7 linked regions of the Homo sapiens genome follow. The protein of the gene in region 1 purifies or fractionates together with the protein of each later gene. This does not show direct contact. Each region holds a gene or a part of one and is shown on either strand. Other genes may lie near its edges. The genes, in order: CTSS, ALDH7A1, POGLUT3, DNAJC10, DNAJB12, PFKL and HAGH.

Evidence for each region.
Region 2: the proteins of CTSS (region 1) and ALDH7A1 fractionate together in Homo sapiens (co-fractionation; one large-scale study listed by BioGRID). This does not show direct contact.
Region 3: the proteins of CTSS (region 1) and POGLUT3 purify together in Homo sapiens (affinity purification with mass spectrometry, with the first as the bait; one large-scale study listed by BioGRID). This does not show direct contact.
Region 4: the proteins of CTSS (region 1) and DNAJC10 purify together in Homo sapiens (affinity purification with mass spectrometry, with the first as the bait; one large-scale study listed by BioGRID). This does not show direct contact.
Region 5: the proteins of CTSS (region 1) and DNAJB12 purify together in Homo sapiens (affinity purification with mass spectrometry, with the first as the bait; one large-scale study listed by BioGRID). This does not show direct contact.
Region 6: the proteins of CTSS (region 1) and PFKL purify together in Homo sapiens (affinity purification with mass spectrometry, with the first as the bait; one large-scale study listed by BioGRID). This does not show direct contact.
Region 7: the proteins of CTSS (region 1) and HAGH purify together in Homo sapiens (affinity purification with mass spectrometry, with the first as the bait; one large-scale study listed by BioGRID). This does not show direct contact.

What each region holds. Positions count from the first base shown.
Region 1 is NC_000001.11:150,744,808-150,749,191, forward strand, and holds part of CTSS (cathepsin S isoform 1 preproprotein), read right to left. Parts: intron 3,073-4,384; coding exon 2,970-3,072; intron 1-2,969. UniProt on the Homo sapiens protein: Thiol protease. Key protease responsible for the removal of the invariant chain from MHC class II molecules and MHC class II antigen presentation. The bond-specificity of this proteinase is in part similar to the specificities of cathepsin L.
Region 2 is NC_000005.10:126,553,072-126,557,455, forward strand, and holds part of ALDH7A1 (alpha-aminoadipic semialdehyde dehydrogenase isoform 1 precursor), read right to left. Parts: intron 2,945-4,384; coding exon 2,860-2,944; intron 1,323-2,859; coding exon 1,216-1,322; intron 328-1,215; exon of another isoform or gene 231-327; intron 1-230.
Region 3 is NC_000011.10:108,487,713-108,492,096, reverse strand, and holds part of POGLUT3 (protein O-glucosyltransferase 3 isoform 1 precursor), read left to right. Parts: exon of another isoform or gene 1-895; coding exon of another isoform or gene 896-929; coding exon 930-1,127; intron 1,128-4,384. UniProt on the Homo sapiens protein: Protein glucosyltransferase that catalyzes the transfer of glucose from UDP-glucose to a serine residue within the consensus sequence peptide C-X-N-T-X-G-S-F-X-C. Can also catalyze the transfer of xylose from UDP-xylose but less efficiently.
Region 4 is NC_000002.12:182,789,243-182,792,980, forward strand, and holds part of DNAJC10 (dnaJ homolog subfamily C member 10 isoform 1 precursor), read left to right. Parts: 3' UTR 1-3,738. UniProt on the Homo sapiens protein: Endoplasmic reticulum disulfide reductase involved both in the correct folding of proteins and degradation of misfolded proteins.
Region 5 is NC_000010.11:72,347,967-72,352,350, forward strand, and holds part of DNAJB12 (dnaJ homolog subfamily B member 12), read right to left. Parts: intron 1-4,384. UniProt on the Homo sapiens protein: Acts as a co-chaperone with HSPA8/Hsc70; required to promote protein folding and trafficking, prevent aggregation of client proteins, and promote unfolded proteins to endoplasmic reticulum-associated degradation (ERAD) pathway.
Region 6 is NC_000021.9:44,302,866-44,307,249, forward strand, and holds part of PFKL (ATP-dependent 6-phosphofructokinase, liver type), read left to right. Parts: intron 1-692; exon of another isoform or gene 693-748; intron 749-1,409; exon of another isoform or gene 1,410-1,590; intron 1,591-2,307; exon of another isoform or gene 2,308-2,453; coding exon of another isoform or gene 2,454-2,552; intron 2,553-2,934; coding exon of another isoform or gene 2,935-3,070; intron 3,071-3,815; coding exon 3,816-3,889; intron 3,890-4,384. UniProt on the Homo sapiens protein: Catalyzes the phosphorylation of D-fructose 6-phosphate to fructose 1,6-bisphosphate by ATP, the first committing step of glycolysis.
Region 7 is NC_000016.10:1,812,671-1,817,054, reverse strand, and holds part of HAGH (hydroxyacylglutathione hydrolase, mitochondrial isoform 1 precursor), read left to right. Parts: intron 1-60; coding exon 61-162; intron 163-4,384. UniProt on the Homo sapiens protein: Thiolesterase that catalyzes the hydrolysis of S-D-lactoyl-glutathione to form glutathione and D-lactic acid.

The sequences.
Region 1 (4,384 bases):
TGCCAGTCACATTGTAGATGCCTAGTAAGTGCTTGTTGAATGAATGAGTGAAGAGAAGCAGATTTGAATTTCAACACTAAAAGATATAGATGATCTTCAAGAGCAACTTCAGTAGAGAAGGGAATTTAGAACACCTGCCGTAGGGAGTTCCTTAGAGAGTCAATAAGATATGAGGGAAATAGTTTCATTTTAAAAAGCTATCACTGGTCTACACCCAAGCTGATCAGTGCTGTGAATAGGTTATCAGTGAACCAAGATATTGATCCCCTCAGCTACTTTCCCCATGGGCCATACGAATATCATCATCTTCTATGTGTGCCACAGTGGGAAAAGGGTAGGAAAGCACCTTTTGTTTGATTTGTAGACTATGTACTTCAAGTAAAGATTTAAGGGGTGTTATGGGTTGCATTGTGTCCCCACAAAATTCATGTTGGAATCCTAACCTCCAGTACCTCAGAATGTGAACTTATTTAGAGATAGGGTTGATGTAGACATAATTAATTAAATTAAGATGAGGTCATTAGGGTGGGTCCTAATCCAACATGAATGATGCTCATGAAAAGGGAAAATTGGCCAGGCGCAGTGGCTCACACCTGTAATCCCAGTGCTCTGGGAGACCAAAGCAGGAGGATCACTTGATCCCAGGAGTTTGAGACCAGCCTGGGAAACATAGAGAGATCCTGTCTCTACAAATAGAAATTAAAATTGGTCTGGTGTGGTGGTGCATGCCAGTAGTGCCAGCTACTTTGGTGGCTGATGTGGGAGGATTGCTTGAGCCCAGGAGTTTGAGGTTGCGGTGAACATTGATCACCCCACTGCACTCCAGCCTGGGTGACAGAGTGAGACCCTGTCTCAAAAAGGGGAAGAAAGTAAAATTATGAATAGAGACAGAAATGCATACAGGGAGAATGTCATGTGAAAATGAAGGCAGAGGTCAGGGTGATTGTCCTAAAGGCTGAGGAAAGTCAAAGATCACCAGCAAACTTTCAGAAGCTAGGGGAGAGGCATCAAACTTTTTTTTTTAATTAAAAGAACATATTTAATTGACAGATTGTATAAACTCAAGGTATACAGTGTGATGACTTGATGTATGTGCACATTGTGCAATGATTGACATAATCAAATGAAATAACACATCCATCTCCACCCGTGCTGTACCTTTGATTCCCAGAATCTGTTCATCTTATACCTGAAAGTTTACACTCTTTGATCAGCATCTCCTCATTACCCAGCCTCCAGTCCCTGGCAGCTATCATTCTACTGTCTGTTTCTGTAAGTTTGACTTTTTTAGATCCCACATATAAGTAAGATCATACAGTTTTTTTTTCCTGTGTCCACGAATATTTTCTTCCTCACAGCGTGAGAAGGAAGTAACACCTTGATCTTAGACTTCCAGCCTCCAGAACTGGGAGACATAAATTTCTGTCATTTAAGCTGCTCAGTTCGTGGCACTTTGTCATGGTAGCCATAGCAAACTAACACAAAGAGAAACTCCAGGTATGCCCCAAAGTCTCAACTCTTCATATTTCCTCCATTTTTTCCCTCTAGAAGTTATGTTCCTTTTGTTTATGAGTGATATAGATGTCAGTTCAATACATATATTGAGGGGCCTTTAGGTGCCACCCACTTAGTCTGTGCTGCGGATATGAAGACCAGACATAATCTCTCCCCAAAGGCACGTACAGAACACTGGAGTGACAGACAGGTAAATATACAATTTAAATATAATGCCTAAAATCCTGTGATCCAGTATGCATAGGACATTTTGGCAGCATAGAAAAAAGACATGTTCCTCAGCCCAAGGATTCAGGAAAGACTTTTCTGGAATAGATTGTGCCTGAGCTACTTCTGAAGAAAAGGAGAAGTAAACCAAAAGAGAAGACAGGATGTTCTAGGCAGAGGGAACACAAACCAAGATATGAAGGAAGGTATTACAGATAAAGTGGAATGTATGGGAACTACAACTGTGGATAGTGCAGTATAACCAGAGTGAAAATAGGAGGCAACAAATGCCAGGAGGTGAGGCTGGCAAGGCAGGGAGCACAGCCTATAGGATTTGTCTTCTGTCAGGGAACATTAATTTTACACCGAATGAAACTCAGTAGAAGAGTTATAAGCCCAGACTCGTTCATATTTTAGACAAATAAGTTTGGCAGCAGTATGAAAGATGGATTTGAGGGTAAAGGGGAAGAAAATAGAGAGTAAAGGAGACCAGTTAGAAGGGTACAGCAATAGTCCACACTAGAGATGCCTGAACTAGAGCCGTAATAGAAGAAACAGAGAAGGAACAGAATCAAGGACATAGATAAGGTAAAATTGGTTTGACTAATTGGTTGCTTGGTTGGACTTGGGGAGGTCTCAGATGAATCCATCATATCTTATTGGGTGATTGTGTTGTGTGGCCCTTTACTGATATGGGAAATTCTGAAGGAGGAACAGTATGGGGGAGAGAGTACTGAATTATTTGGATGTATTGAGTTTGGAAAGACTAAGATATATGTAAGTGAGTGTGTCCAGATAAGTCTGAAGTTCTGGGAAGATGTCAGAACTAGAGCTAGAGATTCAAAAGCTATTGGCATATAAAGGTTATAGCTAGAGTCCTAAGAGTGGAATTATAGCACCCAAGAAAAAATAAAATAAGAAGAGGAATGGGCAGATGATAGAGCCCTGGGGAAAACTAACATTTTTGGGCTAAATAGAGGAGAGGAATAGGTTCATGAGAGAGGCTGAGAAGGAATAATCACAGAAGTAGTACAGAAGATAAACCAGGAAAACAAAGTGATGAAGGCAGAATGGTAAGTGAAAAGATGGGGGCACTGAGTAATTTAGAATGTCACTTTGTAAGAAGCTATAAAGTTCATCATTGTCAATATCGTGATCATAATGATCATCATCAAAATCATGAGAGTATTTGCTGAAACTCCCTCAAATTCCTGATTCCAATTAAATATAAAGTGTAAATATATTACCTGTTTTTCACAAGCCAGTATTCTTTCCCATTAAGATCACCATAGCCAACCACAAGTACACCATGATTCACATTCTGAGTACAGGATGGTTCATAGTAGACACCTGAGAATCAAATATGGGTGGGAAAAAAGAGTGAATACTATAGGATAATAAAGGGCATTTTAAAACGGTATTACTTTTTATTAGCCTGCTTTGGATACATAGCAAGGTTAATTTAAAAAGTTAAGGACATGTCCAGGCATGGTGGCTCATGCCTGTAATCCCAGAAGTTTGGGAGGCCAAGGCGGGCGGGTCACAAGGTCAAGAGATCGAGACCATCCTGGCCAACATGGTGACACCCCATCTCTACTAAAAATACAAAAATTAGCTGGGCATGGTGGCACGCACCTGTAGTCCCAGCTACTCAGGAGGCTGAGGCAGGAGAATTGCTTGAACCCAGGAGGCAGAGGTTGCAGTGAGCTGAGATCGTGCCACCTCACTCCAGCCTGGCAACAGAGCAAGACTCCATCTTAAAAAAAAAAAAAAAAGTCAAGGACATATACTGTCATGCATAAACTAGGGCTCATAATTATTTGCCACCAATGCTGTATTTGTCAGTGTTCTTGCCAAGCTTAGCATCACTCCAGTCATAGTTCCCCCAGAAACCTTCTTTGATAAGCACACCACCTTTTTCTAAGTTTTTTTCTTTTTTGTTTTTTTCTAAGTATTTTTAAACTTGCATACAATCAGTTATTTTAATTCTCTGTGTATACAGGCATATCTCATTTTATTGTGCTTTGCTTTATTGTGCTTTGCAGATATTAGCTTTTTTTTTTTTTTAAGGAACAGTGTTTTGCTCTGTTGTCTAGGCTGTAATACAGGTGGTATGATCATAGCTAATTGTAACCTCAATCTCCTAGGCTCCAGTCATCCTCCTGATTTGGCCTCCCAAAGCGCTGGAATTATAGGCATGAGCCACTGCACCCAGCTAGATATTGCATTTTTTACAAATTGAAGGTTTGTGGCAACTCTACATTCAGCAAGTCTATTGGTACCATTTTCCCAAAAGCATGTGCTCACATTGTGTCCTTGTACCACATTTTGGTAATTCTCACAATATTTCAAACTTTCTCATCATTATTATATCTGTTATGGTCATCTGTGATCAATGATCTTTGATGTTACTTCATAATTTTGAGGGTGAGCTACAAACCACACCTATATAAGATAGCAGACTTAACCCACAAATGTTGTGTGTGTTCTGACTGATCCACGGACTGGCCACACCCCCATCTCTCTCCTCAGGCCTCCCTGTTCCCTGAGACACAATGATATTGAAATTATGCCACATGATAACCCTATGATAGCTTCTAAGTGTTCAAGTAAAAAGAAAAGTTGCATATCTCTCACTTTAAGTCAAAAGCTAGATGTGATT
Region 2 (4,384 bases), on another chromosome or scaffold:
GATATGTATTTTTTTATTCCTTGCCTTAACTGACTTTTTAAAATAACCAATAAATAGATTATAATTGCTCTGAATACAAAGTCTCCTACTGTACTTGAAAAGGAATTTTCCTTTCCATACAAATATTAAGGACCCAATTCAAAAGCAACCATGACTCCGTTTCTTCTATGTCCTTCCAGAAATGTCCCATGCATTTTCTGCTGTCTTTTTTTAAAATATGGAATACTTTTTAAAATACGGATATGAATTTGCATATCATCATTGTGCATAAGCCATGCTAATCTTCTCTGTATCTTTCCAATTTTAGTATATGTGCTGCCAAAGCAAGCATTGTTGTCATTCTTTAAAACGTGTATTTCTGGCTGGGCACGGTGGCTCACGCCTGTAATCCCAGCACTTTGGGAGGCCAAGGACAGTGGATCACGAAGTCAGAAGTTCCAGACCAGCCTGGCCAACATGGTGAAACCCCTTCTCTACTAAAAATACAAAAATTAGCTGGGCATGGTAATGGGTGCCTGTAATCCCAGCTACTCGGGAGGCTGAGACAGGAGAATCGCTTGAACCTGGGAGGCGAGGTTGCAGTGAGCTGAGATCACGCCACTGCACTCCAGCCTGGGCAACAGAGCAAGACGCAGGAGCCTGAGGTGGGAGGATTGCTTTAGTCCAGGAGGAAGAGGGTGCAGTGAGCTGAGATCGTGCACCACTGCACTCCAGCCTAGGTGGCAGAGCAAGACCCTGTCACAAAAACAAACAGAGCCAAGTGTGGTGGTTCATGCCTGTAATCCCAACACCTTAGGAGGCCAGGGTGGGTGGATCACTTGAGGCCAGGAGTTAGAGACCAGCCTGGCTAACATGGGAAACCCCATCTCTACCAAAAAATATAAAAATTAGCTGGGTGTGGTGACATGCACCTGTAATCCCAGCTACTCGGGAGGCTGAAGCAGGAGAATCACTTGAACCTGGGAGGCGGAGGTTGCCGTGAGCCAAGATTGCGCCACTGCACTCCATCCTGGGCACAGAGTAAGACTCTGTCTCAAAAACAGACAAACAAACAAAAACATGTGTTTCCTTGTTTTATAATAATATATATAAATAAAGACAGGAGAAGAAGGATGTCAAATGGGGTGGCTTTTCCAATATGCCCAGAGCCCTGCTTGTGTCTCAGGGAAAAGAAGGTTAAAAAGCTGTCACAATTGATCTCAGAGCATCCCTTACCTTGCCCCCATAGACCACTGTGCCACCTTCTTTCTTTGCTTCTTCCACTGCTCCAAGAAACATGCTCACTGCCTGCTTGGTGTGGAGTGGCCCATAGAGAACATTAGCTGGAGAGAGAAAAGGAAGGCTGGCTCATCATTTTGCCCTTTATGGCATCGTTTTATTATTAGAACAGCTTTCTCAATGAACAGACCAATCCCTTCCTATATGCTCTCAATTGAGAACATAAGTCAGCATCCTTTTTCCATAAAGAACCAGATGGTAAATATTTTATGCTTTGGAGGACATACGTGATCTCCATCCCAATACTCAACTCCGTAATTGTAGTGCAAAAGCAGCCATAAATGACATGCAAATGAGTGGGTATGTGCCGAGAAACTTTTTTTTACAGAAACAGGCAGAGCCAAGTCTGTTTGCCAATCTCTAGTTTAAAGGAATGGCTATCAATTACTCAAAGCACTGCACTCAAAATATAGGGTCAGTTTACTCATTACAGTGTGACCATTCTCTAAGGAAACATCACAGTCTCAGTAGTTGGTGTATAATTCAAGGGGGAAGAGAATGATGCTGTCCTATGTTACGGCTGCTGGGGACTAGAGCACTGACAGTGACCCAGCAACAAAGAAGAAGGAAGATGTAGGTAGGCCTCTATGAGGAGGAGGCATGTTAGCAGAGCCATCCCCACTCTGGGTGAAGAATGTTTCCAGCAGACAGCACAGTAGGATAGAGCCTGGCATGCCTGGAACACTGAAAGGATGTTGGAGAAGGTGGAGCTCTGGGAGCAAGAGGGAAAATAGACACAGAAAGGCTGGTGAGAAGGCAAGCGGGGCAGGAGGCAGAGAGCAGACCAGGAAGGATCGGGAGCCTGCAAAAAAGAAGAAATCAAGAGGACTCTCGGTTTTAATCTAAAAGCAGGCCTGGCGCAATGGCTCACACCTGTAATCTTAGCACTTTGGGAGGCCCAGGCAGGCAGACTGCTTGAGGTCAGGTGTTCGAGACCAGCCTGGCCAACGTGGCAAAACCCTGTCTCTACTAAAAATATGAAAATCAGTCAAGCGTGGTGGAATGCACCTGTAATCCCAGCTATTCGAGAGGCTGAGGCAGGAGAACTGCTTGAACCCAGGAGGCGGAGGCTGCAGTGAGCTGAGATCAAGCCACTGCACTCCAGCCTGAGCAACAGAGTGAAACTGTGTCTCAAAAAAAAAAAAAAAAAAAAAGAAAGGAAAAAAAATCTAAAAGCAATGAGAAGTTACTGAGGGGTATTTTAAGCAGGAGAGTGAATTATCTGATTGCATTTTAAAAATCATTCTGTAGCAATGGATGCAGAAAGGTCAGTTAGGGGATTCTTGCAGCCTTGCACAAGAGGGATGGTGTCGGCTTGGACAAGGGTAATAGTAATGAGAGAGAAGCACACTAAATCTCATTCCATCTAAACAACCTCTCCCAGTCTCACCCACTAGCACACATCAAGCAGCCAGGGTCGAAACCTAGGAGCAGACACGATACACCAAAGCCTAATAACCTGCTTCATGTGCCTTCACGCCTCTCAGGAAAGGGAAAGAAACTCCAAAACTCAGATCAGAAACACTTGTTAACAACAGCTCTCAAAAAGGGATCGCTTTGAAAGCAGAAGGAGATACTCACGGTCCCATGGGTTCCCAACTCGGATCTGTGCATAGGCCTTTTTAAGTCTGTTTACAACCTCATCATGGATGCTTTCATGTATAAACTAAACGAAAAAAGATATTCAAGGGCATAGTATGATAAATGCACACATTTTTAAACAATGAATAATTTCCTTGATAGTTACTGAAATACTGTAATCTCTAAAAATATAAGAAAATCAAAGCATGTTTATTTTTTTAATTATATAATTTATCATTTTAATATTAACTATATGAAGTCAAAATTTTCCTTTTAGGTAGATAATAGAATAAAATCATAAGCCATGTCTTTTTTTTTTTTTTTTTTTTTGAGACAGAGTCTCACTCTGTCACCCAGGCTGGAGTGCAGTGGCATGATCTCAGCTCACTGCAACCTCCACTTCCCGGGTTCAAGCGATTCTTATACCTCAGCCTCCCGAGCAGCTGGAATTACAGGCACCCACCACCACACCTGGCTAATTTTTTGTATTTTTAGTAGAGACAGGCTTTTGCCATGTTGCCTAGGCTGGTCTTGAACTCCTGACCTCAGGTGATCCACCCACCTCAGTCTCCCAAAGTGCTGGGATTACAGGTGTGAGCCACCACACCCGGTCCATAAGCCACATCTTCATCAAGTTTCCAAGGATGTATTTGTCTAAGCTTCACAAATACATTAAAGAAGGCCTCAAGTACATGTGTCCCATACTGTAACCCTAAGTCCCAGTGAACACAGAGCATAGTCATAACTGACCTCTGCTGGGTAACTACAAACACTTAACCCCAGGCCACACAGGTCTCCAGAGGAGGCCTTAATTAGGTGAGGACAACCCTTGCATTCTCTGGGTAGTTGTCAGGTCCATGCTATGCTCCAAGTGGCAGAGCTGAACTTGCCAAACCATCTATGCTCTGGGTTAGTCTCCACATGTGATGAATGAATTGACATTATGAGAACTAGTCATGAAGCAGTCCATAGTAATGGAATTTTTAAAAATATTACTGCTAACTCTAAGGAAATCTATTTGGACAATGACTAATATTACCTATTAATATTTAAAACTAATATAAAAGACGTCTATGAATATTTGCTCCAAAACACATGAAAAAAATAAAAATTGGCTGAATAGAGAAATATTTGGCTTTTATGTCATTTCATATTTTACCATGTAATGAAGGGTATAATCATTTGGAGTGCATGGTTTTTTCTTAGCTTTAACGTAATCTTTAACGCAATTTAATGTTTATGGTGAACAAATTTAATAAACTTTAAAGTTACAAATGTAGTATCAGATTATTTGAGAATGTCAGCTGTGTAAAAATAAAGATTTATTTTCATTTATGCAAAACACCTGAAAAAACAAATATGAAAAGTGTGAGAGGCCGGGTGCGGTGGCTCACACCTGTAATTTCAGCACTTTGGGAGGCCAAGGCAGGCAGATCACCTGAGGTCAGGAGTTTGAGACCAGCCTGGCCAACATGGCAAAATCCCATCTCTAATAAAAATACAAAAATTAGCCAGGCACGGTGAT
Region 3 (4,384 bases), on another chromosome or scaffold:
TGTGTGTGTGTGTGTGTGAGCTTGTACAAGAGTCTGGTAACTAGCTGTAATCTCTCTCTACGTAAGGAAATGGCCTTAGAAGTACCACTTGAAATTTGGGCTTAATAAACGGGGAAATTTTCACAGAAATGAAGGTTATTAGATACTGAAATGGTATACAAAGAAAGCTTGTGTGTGTTTTATAAGGAGGAAGTTCGATTACTAGAGAGATCTGTCATGCTTAGAGTCCATGGATTTTTAACTATTTGGGCTTTAATCCTACCCAAAGGAGGAAAGACCAAATAAGCAAAAAGTTTATTTTTTATTTGCTTTTAAAAAATGATTTGCTTTTGTTCATGCAGTAAATCTTTATTGAATGACTAATGATTCAAATGTTGAGTCTGATCCGTGGTTTGAATACATGAACCAGACCAAGCTCTGTGGCTCAAGCCTGTAATCCCAACACTTTGGGAGGCTGAGGCAGTGGGGATCGCTTGAAGTCAGGAGTTTGAGATCAGCCTGGGCAACACAGCAAGACCCCCTCCAACCCATCCCGCCCCCCACCATCTCTACAAAAAATTTCAAAAATTAGCTGGGCATGGTGGCACACTCCTATAGTCCCAGCTACTCATGGGGCTGATGCAGGTTGAGGCAGGAGGTTCATGAGCCCAGGAGGTTGGAGCTGTAATGAGCTAGGATTCTGCCTCTGCACTCCTAGCTGGATGACAGAGCAAGACCCTGTCTCAAAAAAGAAAAAAAAAAAAAAAAGAATGCATGAACCAGACATGACAGTTCCTGGCCTCAAAGATCTTCCAAAGGAAATGATTTTTTTTTAACCACCAATGCTGCAGGAAAAAGCAACATATTTAAGTTATCCAATAACACCTATCCAATAATTGTAAATCATTATCATGACATGGTAGAGTTGTTTATATTTCTTTTCCTTTTAGGTGAAACACCATTCAAAGTCGTAGTCAAATCTCTTTCACCTAAAGAGTTGGTCCGGATACATGTCCCTAAACCTTTGGACAGGAATGATGGAACATTTTTGATGAGATATAGGATGTATGAAACTGTCGATGAAGGCCTGAAGATAGAGGTCCTTTATGGTGATGAACATGTGGCTCAGTCTCCCTATATTTTGAAAGGTAAGTGATTATTATATACTCCAGAGTCAGCCTTGTGTGTAGGTCCCATGCCTTTCAGAATGGCCTAAACCTGATGACCTCAAAGTCATGTGCAGTAAAGTAAACATTGTATACATACCTCCTGGAGCTCAATTTAAATTTTAAGGGAAAGAAAATTAAGTAAAGAGATTTAAATGATAAGAAAAAAATCTTGTGTATTTACATCCATGTAGTTACTATTTGCGAAACTCTTCATTCCTTTGTGTAGATCCATATTTCCATCTAGTAACATTTGCCTTCTGCTTAAAGGATTTTTATTAATATTTATTTTACTGTGAGAATGCTGGTGATGAATTCTTCCAGCTTTTGAATGTCTGAAAAAACTTTATTTTGCCTTTTGTTTGTTTGATTTGTTTTTTGTTTACTTTGAGACAGGGTCTTGCTCTATGGCCCAGGCTGGAGTACAGTGGCACAGTCAAAGCTCACTGCAGGCTGGGCGTGGTGGCTCACATCTGTAATCCCAACAATTTGGGAGGCTGAGGCGAGTGGATGGCTTGAGCTTAGGCATTCAAGACCAGCCTGGGCAACATGGTGAAACCCCGTCTCTACTAAAAATACAAAAATTAGCCAGGCATGGTGGCGGCGCATGCCTGAAGTCCCAGCTACTCGGGAGGCTGAGGCTGGAGAATCGCTTGAACCCGGGAGGTGGAGGTTGCAGTGAGCCAAGATCACATCACTGCACTCCAGCCTGGGTGACAGAGCGAGATTCCATCTCAAAAAAAAGCTCACTGCAACCTTAAACTGCTGGGCTAGGCCATGTGCAGTGGCTCACACCTATAATCCCAGCACTTTGGGAGGCCAAGGCCAGAGGATCACTTGAGCCCAGGAATTCAAGACCACGCTGAGCAACATGGCAAAAACCCATCTCTACAAAAAATTAGCTGGGTGTGGCGGCACATACCTGTAGTCCCAGCTACTCAGGGGGCTGAGGTAAGAGGATCACCTGAGCTCAGGGAGATCGAGGCTGCGGTAAGCTGTGATCGTGCCACTGCACTCTGGCCTGGGGGACAGAGTGAGACCCCCTGTCTCAAAACGAAATAAAACAGAAACAAAAACTGCTAGTTTAAAGCAAACCTCCCGCCTCAGCCTCTCAAGTAGCTAGGACTGCAGGCACATACCACCATGCCCAGCTAATTAAAAAATATTTTTTTGTTTCTACAAAACATTTTTTTGTTTCTACAGGGTCTTTTTATGTTACCTAGGCTAATCTCAAACTCCTGCACTCAAGTGATCCCCCTGCCTCGGCTCCCCAAAGTGCTGGGATTACAGGCATGAGCCACCATGCCCGGCCTAGTTTGCCTTTGTTTTTAAAAGACATTGTCTCTAGTTATAGTTATAGGTTGATGGGTTTTTTTTCTTTTGATACTTTAAAGATGTGGTTCCACTGTCTTCTCACTTGCATTGCTTCTAACAATAAATCTAGCATTTTCCTTATCTTTGTTCATCTGTGTTGCTTTTAAGGTTTTCTCTTTATCAGTTCTTTTGAGAAGTTTGATTATTATGTGCCTTGGTGCAGTTTCCTTAATGTTTCCTGTGTTTTGGATTTGTGGAACTTCTTGGAATTTAAACCATCCAAGTGATTTAAATTTCATCAAATTTAGAAAAATTATGGCCATTATTGCTTCAAATATGTTTTCTGTTCCATTCCACCTTACCTTCAAGGATACTAATTACCCATATATTGGGCTTGAAACTATCCTGTGGTTCATCGATACCCTTTTCATTTTTTAAATTCTTTTTTCTCTTTGTTTCATTTCGTATAGTTTCTATTACTGTCTCTAAGTTCTCTTTTCTTCTGCAATGTACGATCTGTTGTCAATCCTATACAGTGTAGTTTTCACCTCTTGATGCTTTTTCATCTTCTTGAGCTCTTTTCTGGGGTGCAGTTAAATCACTGGGAAATAGTTTAATCCTTCCAAGTTTTGCTTTTACAGTTTGTTAGGTGGGACTAGAGCCATGTGTAGTCTAGGGCTAATTATTCCCCGCTACTGAGGTAATACCCTTCTGCATACTTTACCCAAGCCCTGTGAATTAGGAGGCTTTCCAATCTGGCTGGTACCCACCGATAAGTACTGTTCTCTCTGGTCATTTTGGATGGGTTCTTCCCCTGTCTTCCCCAAGAACATATGAACACTCAGGTGGCAAATATCTTAGATGTCCATTTCTCAGCCTGAAATCTGTTTTCATCCTTTGTCATTATCATTCTAAATATTTAAATGTTATACCTAAATAATTAAACTGTATTATTTTTAGAATCAATACAGGGGAAGAACCCATCCAAAATGCACTGATCATATGCTCTGCTCAATATGTGAAGAGGACCTTCTATAGATCTCTAACGTTCTCTCTGTGCAGTGCTTCCTTTTTAGATACTCTGTCCTACAAAGTCTAGAGCTGCCTTGGTCTCCCTGGACTGCCAGCTCTGTCTCCTCAACTCAGTGAGGCTGCCTGGCTTTGCCTACAGTCCCCCTCCCTGTACTACAACCTCAAAGCTCCCTTAAGCAGTAGGCTGTAGGAATTGTAGGGCTTACCTTATTTGTTCCCCATCTCTCAGACTCACTGTCCTTCATTGCCTAATACCTAGTGCCTTAAAAACTATTGTTTAAGGCCAGGTGCGGTGACTCACGCCTGTAATCCCAGCACTTTGGGAGACCGAAGCAGGTGGATCACTTGAGGTCAGGAGTTCGAGACCAACCTGGCCAATATGGCAAAACTCCGTCTCTACTAAAAATACAAAAAATTAGTTGGGCGTGGTGGTGAGTGCCTGTAATCCTAGCTATTCAGGAGGCTGAGGCAGGAGAATCACTTGAACCCAGGAGGCGGAGGTTGCAGTGAGCTGAGATCACACCACTGCACTCCAGCCTAGGCAACACAGTGAGACTCCATCTCAAAAAAACAACAACAAAAACAACAAAAAACTATTGTTTCATATGTTTTGTGGGAGTGTTTTCTGGTTGTTTCAGGTGGGGTGGTACATCAGTCCCTGTTACTTGTTGTCAATGAAAAGAGTCAAACTTATGGCCAGGCATGGTGGCTCACGCCTGTAATCCCAGCACTTTGGGAGGCCGAGGCAGGTGGATCACCTGAGGTCAGAAGTTTGAGACCAGCCTGGCCAACATGGTGAAACCCCGTCTCTACTAAAAATACAAAAATTAGCCAAACATGGTGGTGCACACCTGTAATCCCAGTTACTCGGGAGGCTGAGGCAGGAGAATCAC
Region 4 (3,738 bases), on another chromosome or scaffold:
ACGGAGTCTTACTCTGTCCCCCTGGCTGGAGTGCAGTGGTGTGATCTCAGCTCACTGCAACCTCCACCTCCCAGGTTCAAGCGATTCTCCTGCCTCACCCTCCCAAGTAGCTGGGACTGCAGGCATGTGCCACCACGCTGGCTAATTTTTGTATGTTTAACGGAGACAAGGTTTTAGTGTGTTGGCCAGGCTGGTCTCGAACTCTTGACCTCAGGTGATCCGCCTGCCTTGGTCTCCCAAAGTGCTGGGATTACAGGCGTGAGCCACCGCACCCAGCCAATTTTCTTCCTTTTTAAGGCTGAATAATATTCAATTATATATACATTCTACATTTTGTTATTCGTCCGTTGATAGGCTGCCTTCACCCTTTGGCCATTGCAAATAATGCTGCTATAAACATGGGTGTACAAATATCAGAAACCCTGCTTTCAGTTCTTTCAGCTATATACCTAGAAGTGTAAGTCTATATCATAGTAATTCTATTTTTAATATGGGGGGACCTCCATACTGTTTTTCATAGCAGCTGCACCATTTTACATTCCCACCAATAGTGCACAAGAGTTCTGATTTTTCCACATCCTCACCAACACTCATTTTTTTTAAATAGTAGGTATCCCAATGAGTGTGCGTTCATATCCCATTGGAGTTTTGATTTGTACTTTTAGAGTCTTTAAATTATTACTTTTTCCATATCAAAGTACTTTGTGGGAAGTTGGTTATTTTACATTCTCATACCATGCTTTGTATTACTTTCCCATTTGGATGCCCTTTTCATCCTTCACCTCATCCTGTAAACCCAAAATCTAACTTAAATCCCAAATCCAACTTCCACTGTAAAGCCTTTGCTGACTTCTTTACTTCACATTGATTTCTGAATTTCTAAAAGTTCCTCATTGTCTACCACAAAACTAAGTATTTGTTTATAAGAAAAAGCTTTATTTAGTCCTATATTATTCTCTGATTATTCCATATGTTATCTTCCAAACTAGATTGTTAGGTCTTCAAGAGCAGAAGAAATTTATTTTATACTTATAAACTTCAAGATTTGCTGAAGTACTTTGGGTGCTAAATGCTTCTAGCTTATTCGTTTAGTTTACATGACTTTCTGCATGTGAAACTTGAGAAAACTGCAAATCTAATACCTTGGTCTTACAGAACTGAACAATACTTAAATGTGTTTAAACCTGCTATATAAAATGTCAGATGTAAAAGCGAATATCTAATGAAGCACCTTTTCCCTTTTCTAAAATTCAATAGTAAGGGCCAGGCACAGTGGCTCACACCTGAAATCCCAGCGCTTTGGGAGGCCGAGGCGGGTGGATCCCTTGAGGTTAAGAGTTCAAGACCAGCCTGGCCAACATGGTGAAACGCCGTCTCTACTAAAAATACAAAAAAAAATGGCCAGGCGTGGTGGTGCACGCCTGTAATCCCAGCTACTTGGGAGTCTGAGACAGGAAAATCGCTTGAACCCGGGAGGCAGAGGTTACAGTGAGCTGAGGTCACGTCACTGTACTCCAGCCTGGGCAACAAGAGTGAAACTCTATCTCAAAAAAAAAAAAAAAAATTACAATAGTAATAATTATGCCTTCTAACACTAAAATCAAATAACCTTACTTATCAGTTACATTGCCTACTAAGCTGACTTATTTTCTGACTTTTCCTTTGCTTTATTCTCTTATTTCTTCCAAGTAACCATATTCTCTTTTACCCTCCTGTTCAACTGTCTATGCTCCTTCTCTCTTTGTTCACTATTTTGATATTTAAATGTTATGACTTATTTTCAAGTAAATATTTTTTTAATTTCTTCATTTGGGATAAAATATTCACTACATAAATTTAGTGGATAAATACCCCCACAGAGATCGACCCTGCATGAAATGTGTTCCCTCAGAAGTAGGGCAATTCATTCATTATGAGATCAAGCCATAAAATTTAAATCCAAGCAGTAATTCTCCAATTAAAGTAACTCTAGAGCTTAGTTTTCAGTCCTCCTGAATCATAACTAGTTGGCAACAAAAACTAGTATGCCTTGGTGTGAATAAACCTTAACATAGAAACTCACCCAGCCTCAAAAGTTAAAAATTAAGAGAGATATGTATTCAGGTGGCCATTTATACACAATATTTTTGAATACTATTCTGGCCAAATTAGTATAAAATGGGTTACTCTAAAATGAAATTTTAAAAGTATATAAACATCTTAAACTTTAAAACTTCAGCCCAGCTAGAAGTCAACGTGTGTTTCTGAAACTATGCTGGGGAAAGTAGCTCTGTCCATAATGATTATATAGTTGTTAGCAAAATATTGGTCAAAACTTTTTCAGTTTAATGAGTTTCAAGATATTCTTCAAACTGGCCTCTGTGAACTCTTTCTTGACAAGTGAAACCTGGCTCCAACAATGACTACTTTATTCTACCTCTCATTTATTTTCTGTTTAATAAATCCAGTATTTGGGCATACAAACTGTATACAACATTTTATAACACTCTAATGTGGATAAGACACCTCAAAAACAGGAGTTTAGTCATTTCAGTCACATGTTTCTAATACATGATAAGATTTGCAGTTATCGTTTAATTAATTGCAATATGGAAATAGATACTAAAAAATCTAAATTGCATCTTACATTTCAACAATGGATGTTTAAAGCGTTTAAAAGTTATGTTTTGCATTTTACAACATATTGAAGATACACATTTTAAATTTAACTCTAAACAATGCAATAATCTAGAGAATCAGAGAATTGGATCCTGAAACACCTTATAAGTTCAGTCCTGTTGATTAGTATGTTTCCCTGTCCTAGAGTGCATGAACTTTCAAAGCCAGGACACAATCTTGTTCACTTTTCATGCCATCATCTTGACACTCAATACATGTTCAAAGAGTAAATTAAAGAAAAAAGAGATGCTCAAGTCAATTTATAAGTAATCCTCACAAATGCTTGCATACCATCAGTGAACAATTATTTTTTTATCTCCATGCTATAATCTTGCACAAGTTTCATTAGAATTAAATGCACTATCTGAAGTCTATGTTTATTAAATGAGGATTACAGTAGTTGGTTATCTTTGTGAGGGGTTTTGAGGGTTGTGGAACAGGATAACATTTTGAGGTACAAAAAATAATGAAGAGGATATATTCCAATTTCTTTCCTTCCCCAAGGCTTTTCATTACAGCTGTTATAAACCCTGGTAGAATTGATTGGTTTCCTTTTCAGCTTCCTGTTTTGTCCCTCAATGTTCACAAAAGTCCCATCTGATAAATGTATTGTTTAACCTCTCATTGTTTGAAAGAACACCTCTTTGCTCCCCACAGATTACAGACCTATTGGCTTAAGCAGTCCATCTAAATGCATGCCAGTTTCTTTCTTGATAAATTAGAGGCCTATAACCTCAAACCAGTTTATCTGCAAGAGAAGTGTGTGAAGTTAGACTCAATTCTTCCGCTAATGGAACATCGTAATCCTCCTTGTCATCTTTCCTTTGGCCTTCCTGAATAGAAATCATTTATGAGGAAGTTACATGAGCTCAACATGAGCCCCATGTCACTCAGCAAACATTTATTTGAGTACTTACAATGTGCTAGGCTTTGTTCTATGCATTTAAGATAGTGTATTAAATGTATTGACCTCATGAAGATTCTATTCTCGCAGTGGGGAGATAGACAATAAACAATTAATATAAGCAAATGTTAAGTATGTTAGAAGTATGTTAGAAGATGTGCTGTGAAATAAAGAAA
Region 5 (4,384 bases), on another chromosome or scaffold:
TAATCCCAGCACTCTGGGAGGCTGAGGCGGGCAGATCGCCTGAGGTCAGGAGTTTGAGACCAGCCTGGCCAGCATGGTGAAACCCCGTCTCTACTAAAAATACAAAAATTAGCCGGCGTGGTGGCAGGCGCCTGTAATCCCAGCTACTCGGGAGGCTGAGGCACAGAATCGCTTGAACCCGGGAGGCAGAGGTTGCAGTGAACTGAGATTGTGCCACTGCACTCCAGCCTGGGCAACAGAGCAAGACTCCATCTCAAAAAAACAAAAGCAAGCAAAAACAAGCCTGTGGTTCCTGCAGATTAAATGAGGAAGGGCCCAAGTCTCTGGCAGCAGGTCCCTGTGTCCATTTATTCCAGGCACGAAACCTCAGTCAGGCCTGGGCCCCAGCGCCCTGGGTAGTAAAATCCTAAAGCCTCTGACAAGCTGACCAGCTGGGAAAACAGGCATCTGGATCACTGCAGGGACCCAGCATCCCTCTGTGCTAAGGAAGGACAGCAGCACATCCCAGCACATTCCTTCAAACACGCCAGGTGCCTGCTGGCCTGAAGACGCCATGCTGGGTGCCACACCCACCAGTGCGACCCACTGAGGTCTGACCCAACAGGCTGAGAGCCAGTCTCACTGGGAACAGAGTATGGGGCTCCAGTGGAGCACTGTGCCCTGGGCCACTGCTGCCGCACTCCGAGCTTGTGTGATCTTGCTGAGTCTTCAACTGGGAAATCCAAACACAGGAGCTCACAGCTGGGGTTGCTCTGAGTAAGGGAGGCGGGCTCCTGTAGCAAACCCTGAGAGGGTGCTTGGGGAGGAACAATAGCAACAATCATTTTTCTTACCCAGTGATGTGTGTCAGGTGGGTACTTTCACAGTGATCTGCATTAGCTCATTTAATTGTCACAGCAGCCTTAGAAGGAAGGTCTCATTACCTACCCCACCCCACTGTAGGAAGAGGGTACTGTGGCAGACTGCTGCCATGACCACACAGCTGGTTAGGAGGCAGAGGGGCCTTCGAACCCCAGGATGTCCAGCTCCAGGGTCCATGCTCTTAACTACGCTGCTATCCTGGGCTGCACGTGTCTGATGGGGTGGGGATCGGGGACAGGGATGCAAGCAAAAGCATAGAAGAGACATCAAATTCAGAAAGGCCCAGATTCAAATCTCAGCTCTGCCATTCCTAGCAGTGTGACCCTGGCTGATCTATGAAATCTCTCTGAACCCTGGTTTCGTCACGGTGGCGGAGGATGAAATGGGATAATGTGTGTAAGCACCTGTGCCGAGTCTGACAGAGAGTGAAGGTTCAAGGCTGATGAAGTGTCTGGCCACAGAAGTGGGCTGGCCAGGGAAGTGAGGGAACCTGTGGTGGGGGCTGGGGAGGAGGAGGGCTGGGTAGCGGGGGAGCTCCAAGGCTCAGGAAGGCAAAGACTCAGCGCTCAGCAGACTCTGGAACCAGTAGTAACCATGAGATTTCAGGCCATCCCAGATACCAGGTCCATGCCAGCTACCAAGGGGATGGCAAGAGAAACCGAAAGATGAAGAGATATTGGTCAAGGCGGGGCAGGAGGAGGAGGCAGTATGCTGTTTCCTAGAGCTTTTCAAGAAGCTCTTTATTATTTCAGTTCCTCTGGAAGTTCTGGTGGCCCAGGCTGAGCCTGGCAGATCCTAAGGGCAAAATAACCAGTTATTCAACTACCAGAGATGAGCAGGAGCACTAGCCAGGAGATGGGACAGGCTCTCTCTTGTACCTCTCAGAGAAGATTCTGGAAGCTTTTCAGGGCAGTTACAGGGAATCAGCCACTCTAATTTCCCTACAGTACAGAAAGAGAGCCCAAAGGAGAATGGGGGTGCCCTGGGTCACATAGAAGCTTTCTGCTTGAGTTGGAAATTAAAGATTTCCAGTTGCTGGCAAGTAGGGTCTCTCTTCTGGCCTGGGGGATGTGACAGCTTCATGCTTACATCCCTCATGGCACAGAGGCTGACAGGCAATGTCACAAAAAGAGACAGAACAGCTTAATGTTACCTTCTCAGTAAAGCTGGCAGACTTAGAAAAGGAAGGGAATTCGATAGAAGAGAACAGAGCTGCGGTGGAGAGGCACCTGAGGTAGAGCTGAGAGGATTTCTATGGCCAAAGCCACTGAACCCAGACTAGAGTTAGATTTGGCCGGGCAGTGGCTCACACCTGTCATCTCAGCACTTTAGGAGGCCAAGGCAGGAGAATGGATTGAGCTCAGGAGTTCGAGACCAGCCTTGGCAACACAGGAAGACCCTGTCTCTACGAAAATAAAAAAATTAGCCAGGTGTGGTGGCACATGCCTGTGGTCCCGGCTGTTTGGTAGGCTAAGGTGGGAGGATCACTTGGGCCTGGGTGGTTGAGGCTGCAGTGAGCTGTGATTGTGCCACTGCACTCCAGCCTGGGCAACAGAGTGAGACCCTGTCTCAAAAAAAAAAAAAAAAAAAAAAAAAAAAAGACTGCCCGATGGGTTCAAACCTAGCTCTGCCATTTGCTAGAAGGGTCATCTTGGACAAGGTAACTTAGCTCATCTGTGCAAAACTCTATCTCCATCATACAGGCTAAAAGAGGAAATGAGTGAATGCCAGCAAAAAACTCAGCCCAATGCCCAGCAAATATACAGTGTTGTCTCTGACCGTGACTTTGTTAGTAAGTGAGTAGCTGAGTTTCTGGGCTCTGTGTACCTACGGTGCTCACAGTGAGTCAGAAAAGGGCCTGGGATTGGAGATGGACAGCTCTGGGTCTTTGCTGGCTAGCCATGTGGCCTTGCCAGGTTAGCTGGTTCCTGAGTGGAGAGACGATCTCTGCTCTCATAGGAGTGCTCTGAGGGGTAAATAAGATTCTGTGAAATACAGTGAATGGAAGGGGGCTAAGTGCACAGTGGGGCTCATGAAGGTTGACTGACTTGAAGGGTACAACCCCACCCCGGACCTCGCCAGCACCAGAACATCTCTCACTCCTGGACTCTGAATGCAGAATCCCTCAGCAATCCGTCTCCTTTTCCTGTGGGCTGGCCTTCCCAGCTTGGCCTTCATGACTTAGCCCAGAGTCAACCATTTCACAGAACATTGGATAGCCTGAGCTGCAAGGAACCTCAGGATCATCCCAGCCAATCCTCTCTTTGTATGCTGGGGAAACTGAGGCCTACAAATGCTCTCGTGAGCTCCCTGGGAAATCTGGCACCTTCCACATTTGTTACAAAGCCTGAGTCAAAGCCAATGGCTTACCAGGCTGCCAGCTACTGGACAGAAACTCCCAGAAAGGGACTGACTGGCTCCACCATCTCTAGTCTGTGACCTCCCAGCTTAGGGCCCAGCTACTGCTTTGCAGTTTAACTCAGTGCCTCCTTGTCCCACCTCCTGCAGCAGGAGTTTCAAGCCCCCTCACATCCCTTTTTGCTGCAAAGGCCAACAGTGTGAGGTCCCTCATCCTTTCAAGGTTGCTCTGAGCCTCCCCTCTCTCGTGACTCTCCCCTCTCTGCCCTTCCACCTCTCCAAGACCATCCTCTGCCCATGCTCTCGATCCTTCCCTTTTCAACTCTTAACTTGTCCTTTTCCCATGCAGTGCCTGCGGCATCACACAGGGCTGCTCACCACCTGCTGCCATTACCTCTCCATGGCTACCTGGCCGCTGCCCTCTCCGGGGACTGCCTTTTCCTGTTGCTCCATCTCAATCTGTTGCTTCCTCTGCCTTTGCCTGTGGGCTCAGGGCAGGTGTTGCCTGCCATTGTGCCTGCAGCAACTTTCTCTCCATGGTCTATACTTTCCCACAGTGACCTCAGCCATGCACAACTCCAGTGAGCTCCAGGGAACAGACGATACCACACTTTCACCTGTAACCTGGAGCGCTCTCCTGAGTTCCAGGCTGACAGCTCCTTTGGACTATCCCACTGGCACCTCCCACTCTGCTCATCTCTTCCCATCTCAGTTCTTCAGCCTGGTTTCTTCCTGGTCACAGGGGCTTCAATTCTGATTCCCCAGCATCCCATCTGATTCTCCTCTGCACCTCTCTCTCACACAGGCCTGGTGCCTCTTTTCCAGGGACCTTAGCCTTATCCATGACTGCCTTGTCCCAGGCCCTCAGAATATCCAACCAGCTCAAGGCAATTCTCTCCTATTGGCTTCCTGCCCTGAAGCTCTCTTCCCTCTCATTAACCTTTCATGCTGTTCTCTTTTAACAACAGTGCCCGTACTTTATTCCTGCTATCAAAAACCTCAATGGTTTCCTCACTAACTACAGAATAAGGTGAAAATATCTTGGCCTGGTAGAAAAGGATTTCTATGATCTGGCCCCATTTTATTTCCCAAACTTAATCCTCTCTGTATACGAATTACCACCTCCACTGCCTCTAAATCTTGCTACACTTTGATCTCTTCCCCC
Region 6 (4,384 bases), on another chromosome or scaffold:
GGTGCTGTTGAGCAGGGGAGGGCGTTGTTCAAGGATATCTATTTGCACAATAACCTGTGCAAAGGTAGCTAGAAGACTTGAAACAGGCCGGGCGCGGTGGCTCACGCCTGTAATTCCAGCACTTTGGGAGGCTGAGGCTGGTGGATCACCTGAGGTTAGGAGTTCAAGACCATCCTGGCTAACATGGTGAAACCTCGTCTCTACTAAAAATACAAAAAATTAGCTGGGCATGGTGGTGCGCATCTGTAATCCCAGCTACTCAGGAGGCTGAGGCAGGAGAATCGCTTGAACCAGGAGGTGCAGGTTGCAGTGAGCCGAGATCGAGCCACGGCACTCTAGCCTGGGCGACAGAGCGAGACTCTGTTGCAAAAAACAAACAAGAAAAAACCCCAAAAATCAGCCAGGCGTGGTGGTACATGCCTGTAGTCCCAGCTACTCGGGAGGCAGAGGCAGGAGAATCGCTTGAACCGGGGAGGCAGAGGTTGCAGTGAGCCAAGATCCCGCCACTGCACTCCAGCCTGGGTGACAGAACGAGACTCTGTCTCAAAAAAAAAAAACAGACTTGACCAAAAAAAAAAAAAAAAAAAAAATGGCCCGGCCTGCCTATGCCTACCTTCATCTCGCCCTGGCCTGGGCACTTTTAATTCTCTGGGCCCTTTGTCTAGTGCCCCCTCCCTGCCCCTGCAGGACACCGTGCCCTGCCTTTCCCTGGCTGGTGTGTTTGGACGTTGGTTTCCTGTTATCGCAGGTGAGGACTTAGCTTCCTGGCCCGCCACGCCTCCCTGACATGGCCTCCTGTTTGGAGCCTTCAGGCTCATGCTTACATCCTTAGCTGATCATTAAACTTTGTGACCATTTCATGCTCACTGCTTTCTTGCCTGGGAGCTAATGGTGAGGAAAGGTCACTGGGAACCAGCGCACCAACCTCAGACATTGATTTTGTTCCAGCCTTTTTTCCTGGGCAGGGGTGGCTATCACCTGCTGGTAGGCAGCGGCAGGCCCACTGTCCTGCCTGCCCTCTGACTGCGGTGTCGGCGACTGCTGCCCGAGGTTTATTTTGAGAAAGAAAAGCCGATTAAAGGGCCATTAAAAAGGTCTTTTGAAGATTACAGCTTCCAATGAGGTTAACAGAGAAAATTTCCTCCTTCAGGCCGCAGCCAGTCCCGTTCTAAAATCCAGAACGTGTCCCTTTCCAGTCCCGTTCTAAAATCCAGTCCCAACAACAAAGTGGCCATGTGACATGGCCACTTTGTTCTCCTCCCAAGGGCTCAGCACAAAGCTGGGTTTTGGCAGCTTCATTGTCTCCGGGCGTCAAAGCAGGTTTTATTTTGCAGAGCACCCTGAAGACATTTGGAAGTGAGGGGTACCCTTGCTGACCCCTGATCCTGGGGCCCCTTTGCCGTTCCCAGGTCCCCTGACAAGCCCACCAGGCCCCCTGCTGAGATGGCTGTGACCCTGGGCTGACCCGCCCAGTGGCACATTGACTCCGCCTGGAGCTGGGGAGACCAGAGAGGCCCTGTGGTTGGACGGTGGCCTGGGTGCGCTGCTCCTGCCCTCTCCTTGCCCTGCCTCAGCTGCTGCCTGCCAGAGGTGGGCTTGGACCTGTGGTGGGACCAGGTCTGCAGGGAGGGCGAGGGAGGGACGGAGGCTTAGCTTCGGCCAGCTGTGGCTGAGTGGATCTCCCTCACTGCCCCCAACTCCAGTGAGGGTGGGGGACAGGGCGCTGCACTCACAGCACCACCTTGGACGCCCAGCCTCAGGCAGCAGGACTTGGCTCTGCTGACTGTTTTTGGTTGTCGGGTGCTTGGGGTGGCTCAGCTGTCTGGGGGGGGCTCGGCTGTCTGTCTCGGGGGGCTTGGCTGTCTGCGGGGGGCTCGGCTGTCTGGGGGGCTCGGCTGTCTTTCTGGGGGAGCTTGTCTGTCTGTCTGGGGGGCTTGGCTTTCTGGGTGTGTGTGGGATGCTTGCTGGGTTCCCGCCCCAGTTTCAGCTGTAGCAGCCGTGCTCCCATCTATGTGGGGATGTGAGGGAGGCACTGTTCCTTTAGAGACGGCGTTGCTTGCTCAAGTGGAGAAGCTGCCAGTGTGGGCAGCTCCAGCTCCCTGCACGCTCTGTGCTCTGCCCATTCTAACGTCTGTGCCCCTTCTTCTGGATGGCTGCCGGGCTTGGCTCTGGCCCCCCTGTTGGATCCCCTGGCTGCTGGGTGGGGAGAGGGCCACCTACTGAACCTGAGGGTGGGTCTGGGTGAGTCCTGGCTCTGCTGCCACCTGCTGGGCTCTGGAAGGTCCCTCACCCTCCCTCTGGGATCTCATTGGATTCCTGTAGTGTGGGGATGGTGGCAGATACTCTGGCTGCTACGTGAGAACAGTGTGCCGATCCCTGGGGTTTCTCAAGGCGTGGCACCTCACCTCACACCTGCTCCCTGCTGCTGAGCCCCACGCCAAGCTGGAGAGCGGATGAGAAGCATGTGTAACCAGGGTAGAGGTCGAGAGTCCTCTCGTGGGGGTCTCCATGTTCAAGGGAGCTGCCGAGGCTTGAGCAGGAGCCCCCAGCAGGTCAGCACCTCCAGCCTCTGCAAGTACAGGGGGGTGGGAGGGCAGGGGCTTTTGAGGGGCACGAGGCTTGGGGACAGAGGACCCGCATGGCTTAGGGATGGATGGCATGGTATGGGTGCTGGGAGGGAGGCAGGAAGAGCAGGGCTGGTCCCAGGGGCAAGCACAAACTCAGGCCTGTTACACGGCCCCAGACCTCACTCAGAAGGGGACCCTGGCCGCTGGCGTGGGTTTCCTCCTCTCTGAAGATTAGGTGGTCTTGGCTGCCCCTTTTGTATGAAGTCATGGATATCTTTTGAGATGGGGGCTCTCGGGAAGAAGGTGTGGGGTACATTAGCACCAGCGTTTCCTGAGTGCCGCCTCCCCCGTTAATGTCCCTCTCCAGGAAACTGGCTTTGCCAAGGCCCCCGCTGGGACAGACTGTTTCTTTCACTGCAGTCCTGGGAGCCGAGGGCAAGGGGACAGGAAAGAGGAAGTGACCTCAGAGCCTGGTGGCACCAGCATCATGTCCAGGCTGGGGGGTGAGGGTCCCTGAGGCCCTGGGGCAGGGCAGTGCTGTTCCCTGGGTGGCTGAGGCCGGAGGGGCTCTGTTCTCAGTCCCCCATCTCATTGCGGAGGAAGGAGCCCAAGCCCCTTCCAGCAGGTGCTTTCCTCAGTGCCCAGAGGTGCTCCCCGGCTTCTCCATCCCCACGCCGCAGCCTGAATGTCTGGGGTGGGGCCGGTGTGGGAGGTGCCGGCCTCTTTTCCACCTGCCCCACTTTTTATCCTGCTCTGTGGTCAAGGCCTGGCCCCGTGGCCTGTGAGTGTGGGGGCTCCGTGGCAGAGGTTGGGGCGGCGGGGTGTGGAGTTCGGGACACCCACACATGCCTGATTGCCATGCTCTGCATGGGATGTTCCCAGTTTATCTCTGGGCACCATACTCCAGGTGCTCGGAAGCTGAAGCCTAGAGCCTGCTGGGTTCACCCGAGCCTCCACCCGGGGGCCCAGGGCTGGTCCTCAAGTTTCCTGGCCTGGTGCCTCCTGAGATGGGGAGGGTGACCAGGCCTTCCCTACCCCCTGCCCTCTGAGATGGGGAGGGCGTCCGGGCCTTCCCTGACCCTTGCCCTCTTGAGATGAGGAGGGTGACCAGGGCCTTCCCCCACCACCCGCCCTCTGAGATGGACAGGGTGTCCAGGCCTCCCCTACCCCCTGTCCTCTGAGATGGGGAGGGTGTCCAGGGCCTTGCTTCTCAGCGTGGGACTGACAGGTTTGCCCTGACCTCCACAGGCATGAACGCTGCTGTCCGGGCTGTGACGCGCATGGGCATTTATGTGGGTGCCAAAGTCTTCCTCATCTACGAGGTAAGGCCAAGGTGGGCTGTGTGTGTGCAGGGAGTGGGGACCTCCTGAGGCGCATGCCGAGGTGTGTTCTGTGTGGGTCACACTGGGAGACGGGGTGGTCCTGGCCTGGAGGAGCTGATGGGTATGTGGTCTTGGGGAGTGTGAGGGGGAGCTTGGGGCCAGGCCAAAGGCATCTGCAGAAAGAAGACCTACTGCCTTGGGACTCAGCCCGGCTGGAGGCTCAGAGGCTGCAGAGCACGGGCCTGGGGGCAGGGAAGGAGCTGGGTGGACAAGGAGTCGAGGCCCTGCCTACAGTGATCGCTGACGGGCCAGGCCCCACCCACCACACCCCTGCCTGGTGTCCCCCAGCCTGGCCCTTGTCCCGCCCCGAGGCCTCTGTGAGTGGGGGCCAGGGACCTCACCGCCTCTGCCCTTGTCCTCCCCAGCCTCCTGCCTCACCACCCAGACCCGGGGGGCAGCCGCTGGCAGCAGCTCTGCTGTGTCTATGTTCATTGT
Region 7 (4,384 bases), on another chromosome or scaffold:
CCTGAGGACTTTCACAGGTGGTAACAGCCTTCCGAGCTCACCTGTCACCTCTCTCCTCAGAGAGTCTACTGTGGCCACGAGTACACCATCAACAACCTCAAGTTTGCACGCCACGTGGAGCCCGGCAATGCCGCCATCCGGGAGAAGCTGGCCTGGGCCAAGGTGAGTGGGGCCGTCACTGCGCAGTGCCTTCCTGTGGGCTGCTCAGGGCCGCTGTGCACAGCGGGGTCGCCAGAGTGGGTAGACACTCACACTCTGAGCCCAGAGAGCAGGCCTGGGATTCAGGCCAGTGTGGCCCAGCTCGCCCTGCACGGCAAACCCAGGGGTTCTATGGAGATCCCTCTGCCTCGGAGGGTCTGGAGTAGGCCTCAGACGCTGCGTGTGTAAAAAGCGCCCAGCCTGTTCCCACATTCTGAGCAGTAGGGTCAGGCTGGCAGCACGTGGCTCTGCTGGCTCTCCAGGCCACAGAACGTGGCTCTGTGTCCAAAGGACTCTTATCTCCACGGTGGCCCCACGTGAGCCTCCATGGCGTAGCCCAGGCCAGCTGGGCCAAAGTCTGCCAGGAGCAGGACGGGGTTCTCCAGGGGTGTGTTTCCCCGAATTCACTGGAAACGGTGTCACAAGCACGCACGCCTGGGTGGTCTCAGGCGTGGGCTCCCTCTGCTGAGTGGAGTGAGAGTCGCTGCCTCTGACAGGGTTGTTTTAAATAAATCACCCGGTTTTTTGAGCATCTTTTTCAATTTCTTAGAGTAGAGGTTAACATTATTTTACAGTATTTACTCATGCAAATTCCAACTCTAAATCAGATGAATCATAAATACTCATCTTTTTTTTTTTTTTAATTTTTTTTTGAGACGGAGTCTCCCTCTGTCGCCCAGGCTGGAGTACAGTGGCGTAATCTCGGCTCACTGCAACCAGCACCTCCCGGGTTCAAGAAATTCTCCCTGCTGGCCGGGCGTGGTGGCTCACGCTTGTAATCCCAACTACTCAGGAGGCTGAGGCAGGAGAATCGCTTGAACCCAGGAGGCAGAGGTTGCAGTGAGCCAAGATCGCTCCACTGCGCTCCAGCCTGGTGACAGAGCGAGACTCCGTCTCAAAAAAAAAAAAAAAAAAAAAAAAAAATTCTCCCTGCCTCAGCCTCTTGAGTAGCTGGGATTACAGGCGCCAGCCAACACGCCCAGCTAATTTTTCTACTTTTAGTAGAGATAGGGTTTTGCCATGTTGGCCAGGCTCGTCTTGAACTCCTGACTTCAGGTAATCCGCCTGCCTTGGCCTCCCAAAGTGCTGAGATTACAGGCGTGAGCCACGTCACCTGGCCCGTGTGTCTGTCTTGAGTGGACAGATTGCAGTTTGAGGAATGTTGATGATGTTTGCACTTGTGTAATCCCCTCCACAGTCCAGATGTGGAACTTACCACTACCCCAAAGGCTCCTGTGTCCCTCCCATGTGGCGTCCCCGCCAGCTGTTGCTCTGCTGTGACCTCAGGTCACTTTCTAGTTTCCCATGAACAGAATCTCATTGCTCCGTCATCTCTGTGGCATTCTCGGCCCCGCTGATGTTGGTGAGGGTCAGCCACGCTCTTTGCTTCTGAGTAGCCCATTGTGTGGAAATGCTACAATTTGTTTATGCATTTGTCTGTTTCCAGTTTTTTGCTATTTGAATAAAGCTGCTATGGACATTTGTGTACAAGTCTTTTGTGAACATGTTTTTATTGCTCTTGGATACTACCTAAGAGTGGAATTGCTGTGTTGTGTGGTTAAAGGTGTGAACCGTTTTCCAAAAATGGTTGTACTGTTCTACAGTCCCCCACCAATGCTTGAGTTCCGGGGCCTCCATGCTGTGCCAGCACTGCTTGGTGTTGTCGGTCTCTCCAATTTTTGCCATTCTAACTTGCCTGTGGTGGCGTCTCACTGCCTTTAAAATGTGGATTTCCCCATGTGACCATCTTTTCATGTGTGTCGGCCTTTGGATGCCTTCTCATGAAGTTTATGTTCAATCTTTTGTCCATTTTAAATATTGGGTTTGGCCTGTTGGGCTGCTCTTGTAAGAGTTCCTTATATCATCTGGAAACAAGTCTTTGTGAGATATATATATATATGTGTGTGTGTGTGTGTGTGTGTGTGTATATACATATATATATTTATTTGTTTGTTTTTTGAGACAAAGTCTTGCTCTGTCGCCCAGGCTGGAGTGCAGTGGTGTGATCTCATCTCACTGCAAGCTCTGCCTCCCGGGTTCAAGCCATTCTCCTGCCTCAGCCTCCCAAGTAGCTGGGACTACAGGTGCCCGTCACCACGCCCAGCTAATTTTTTGTATTTTTAGTAGAGATGGGTTTCACCGTGTTATCCAGGAAGGTCTCGATCTCCTGACCTCGTGATCCACCCGCCTCGGCCTCCCAAAGTGCTGGGATTACAGGCGTGACCCACCACGCCCAGCTGAGATATATATTTAAAAGATGTTTTTCTCTCCCAGCTCATGGCTTGCCTTTTCATTTTCTTAACATTGTCTTTTGGAAAATAGTTTATAGTTTTGGTGAAGTTCCATTTACTTATTTTTTGTTTGTTTCTTTTTTTTTTTTTTGAGACGGAGTTTCACTCTTGTTGCCCAGGCTGGAGTGCAGCGGCGCGATCTCAGCTCACCGCAACATCCACCTCCTGGGTTTAAGCGATTCTCCTGCCTCAGCCTCCCGAGTAGCTGGGATTACAGGCATGCACCACCACACCCGGTTAATTTTGTATTTTTAGTAGAGATGGGGTTTCTCCATGTTGATCAGGCTGGACTCGAACTCCTGACCTCAGGTGATCTGCCCACCTTGGGCTCCAAAAGTGCTGGGATTACAGATGTGAGCCACTGCGCCCGGCCTACTCAATTTTTCTTTTATGTTTCTTGTGCCCTTTCTAAGATATCTTTGCATACCCTTAGCTCACAAAGACTTTCTCCTGTGTTTCTTCCTAGAAGTTTTAAAGTCTTAGCTTTTATATTTACAAACAATTTACAGTGTTCCCTTTCAAGATGGTGTTTGTGTGTGGTGCGAGGTGAGGGTAGAGGTTCACCCTCTCGCAGTGTGATCCCGAGGTGTTCAGGGCTGTCTGTCGAAGGACTGTCCTTTCCTCCCTGGATTGCCTTGGCACCTTTCTGAAAAGAATGGGCCCTCTATGCCCGAGTCTGCTTCTGGTCTCTGCTCTGTTTCGTTGGTCTCTATGACTTGCCACGGTGTCCGAGGACAGCACCTTGATGACTGTAACTCTGTGCTGAGTCTTGGCACTGGTATGTGTGAATCCTCCAGTGTTCTTTTTCAAAATGGTTTTAGTTGTTTTAAGCCTTTTACATTTCCGTTTTCAGAATCATCTCGTGAACTTCTATCAGAAAAGCTAGCCTGGCTGCTGATTGGGACTGTTGTGATAACTGATGTGGCGAGAATTGCGATCTTAACATTGAGTGTTTCTGTGAGCTTTCCATCTATGAATGTCTTTAGCTTTTCTCAGCAGTGTTTTGAAATTTGCGTGTTCAAGGTCTTGCACGTGTTACTAAATGGATCCCTAAGCACTTCTGGTCATGATTATTTGTTGATACTAGTTATAAATACAGTGGATGCGTATTAACTTCCTGGGTGTCTTAGTCTGTGTGGTGTTGCTATAAAGGAATACTTGAGGCCGGGTGACTTATAAAAGGAGGTTTATGTGGCTCATGGTTATGCAGGCTATATAAGCAGCATGGCCTGGGCGTCTGCACCTGGTGAGGCCTCAGGCTGCTTCTGCTCATGGCAGAAGGCGAAAGGAGCTGGTGGGTGTGAAGCATGTGGCCAGAGGAAGGAGAGAGTGGGGGAGGCAAAAGTTTCTTTTAAACAACCAGATCCTGTGGGAACTAACAGCAAAAACTCGCACTTGGAGCAGGGCACCAAGCCGTTCACAAAGGATTCCCCCCATGATCCAAACACCTCCATTAATTGGGGATCAGATTTGAGCATGCGTTTGGAGGGATGGACATCCCAGCCGCAGCCCCGTGTGAACACCCAGGAGAAGGGAGTGGCCGGGCTGGACGGGAGGTGTGTTTGACTTTTAAAGAAACTGCCAAACTCCCCTTCCCCGGTGCTTGTGGTGTTTGCTTTCCTGCTGGGAAGGCGTGGGCACACCAGCTGGTCCGTGTCTTTCGGCACACCACACGGTGGAGCCAGCCCACGCGGTGGAGCCAGCCGTTTGAAAGGAGGTGCTGGAGCCCAGTCCCTGGTGAGAGGCCGCCTCCTGCAGGGCGCCTCCCATTCTGCGGCCTCTGGTTTTCTTAGCAGTATCTTTTGAGCCAACATTTTTAATTTTAATGAAGTCCAATAGATTCTTTTATGCTTCATTCTTTTTTGTCTCCCATCTAAGAAATCTTTGTTTATCCC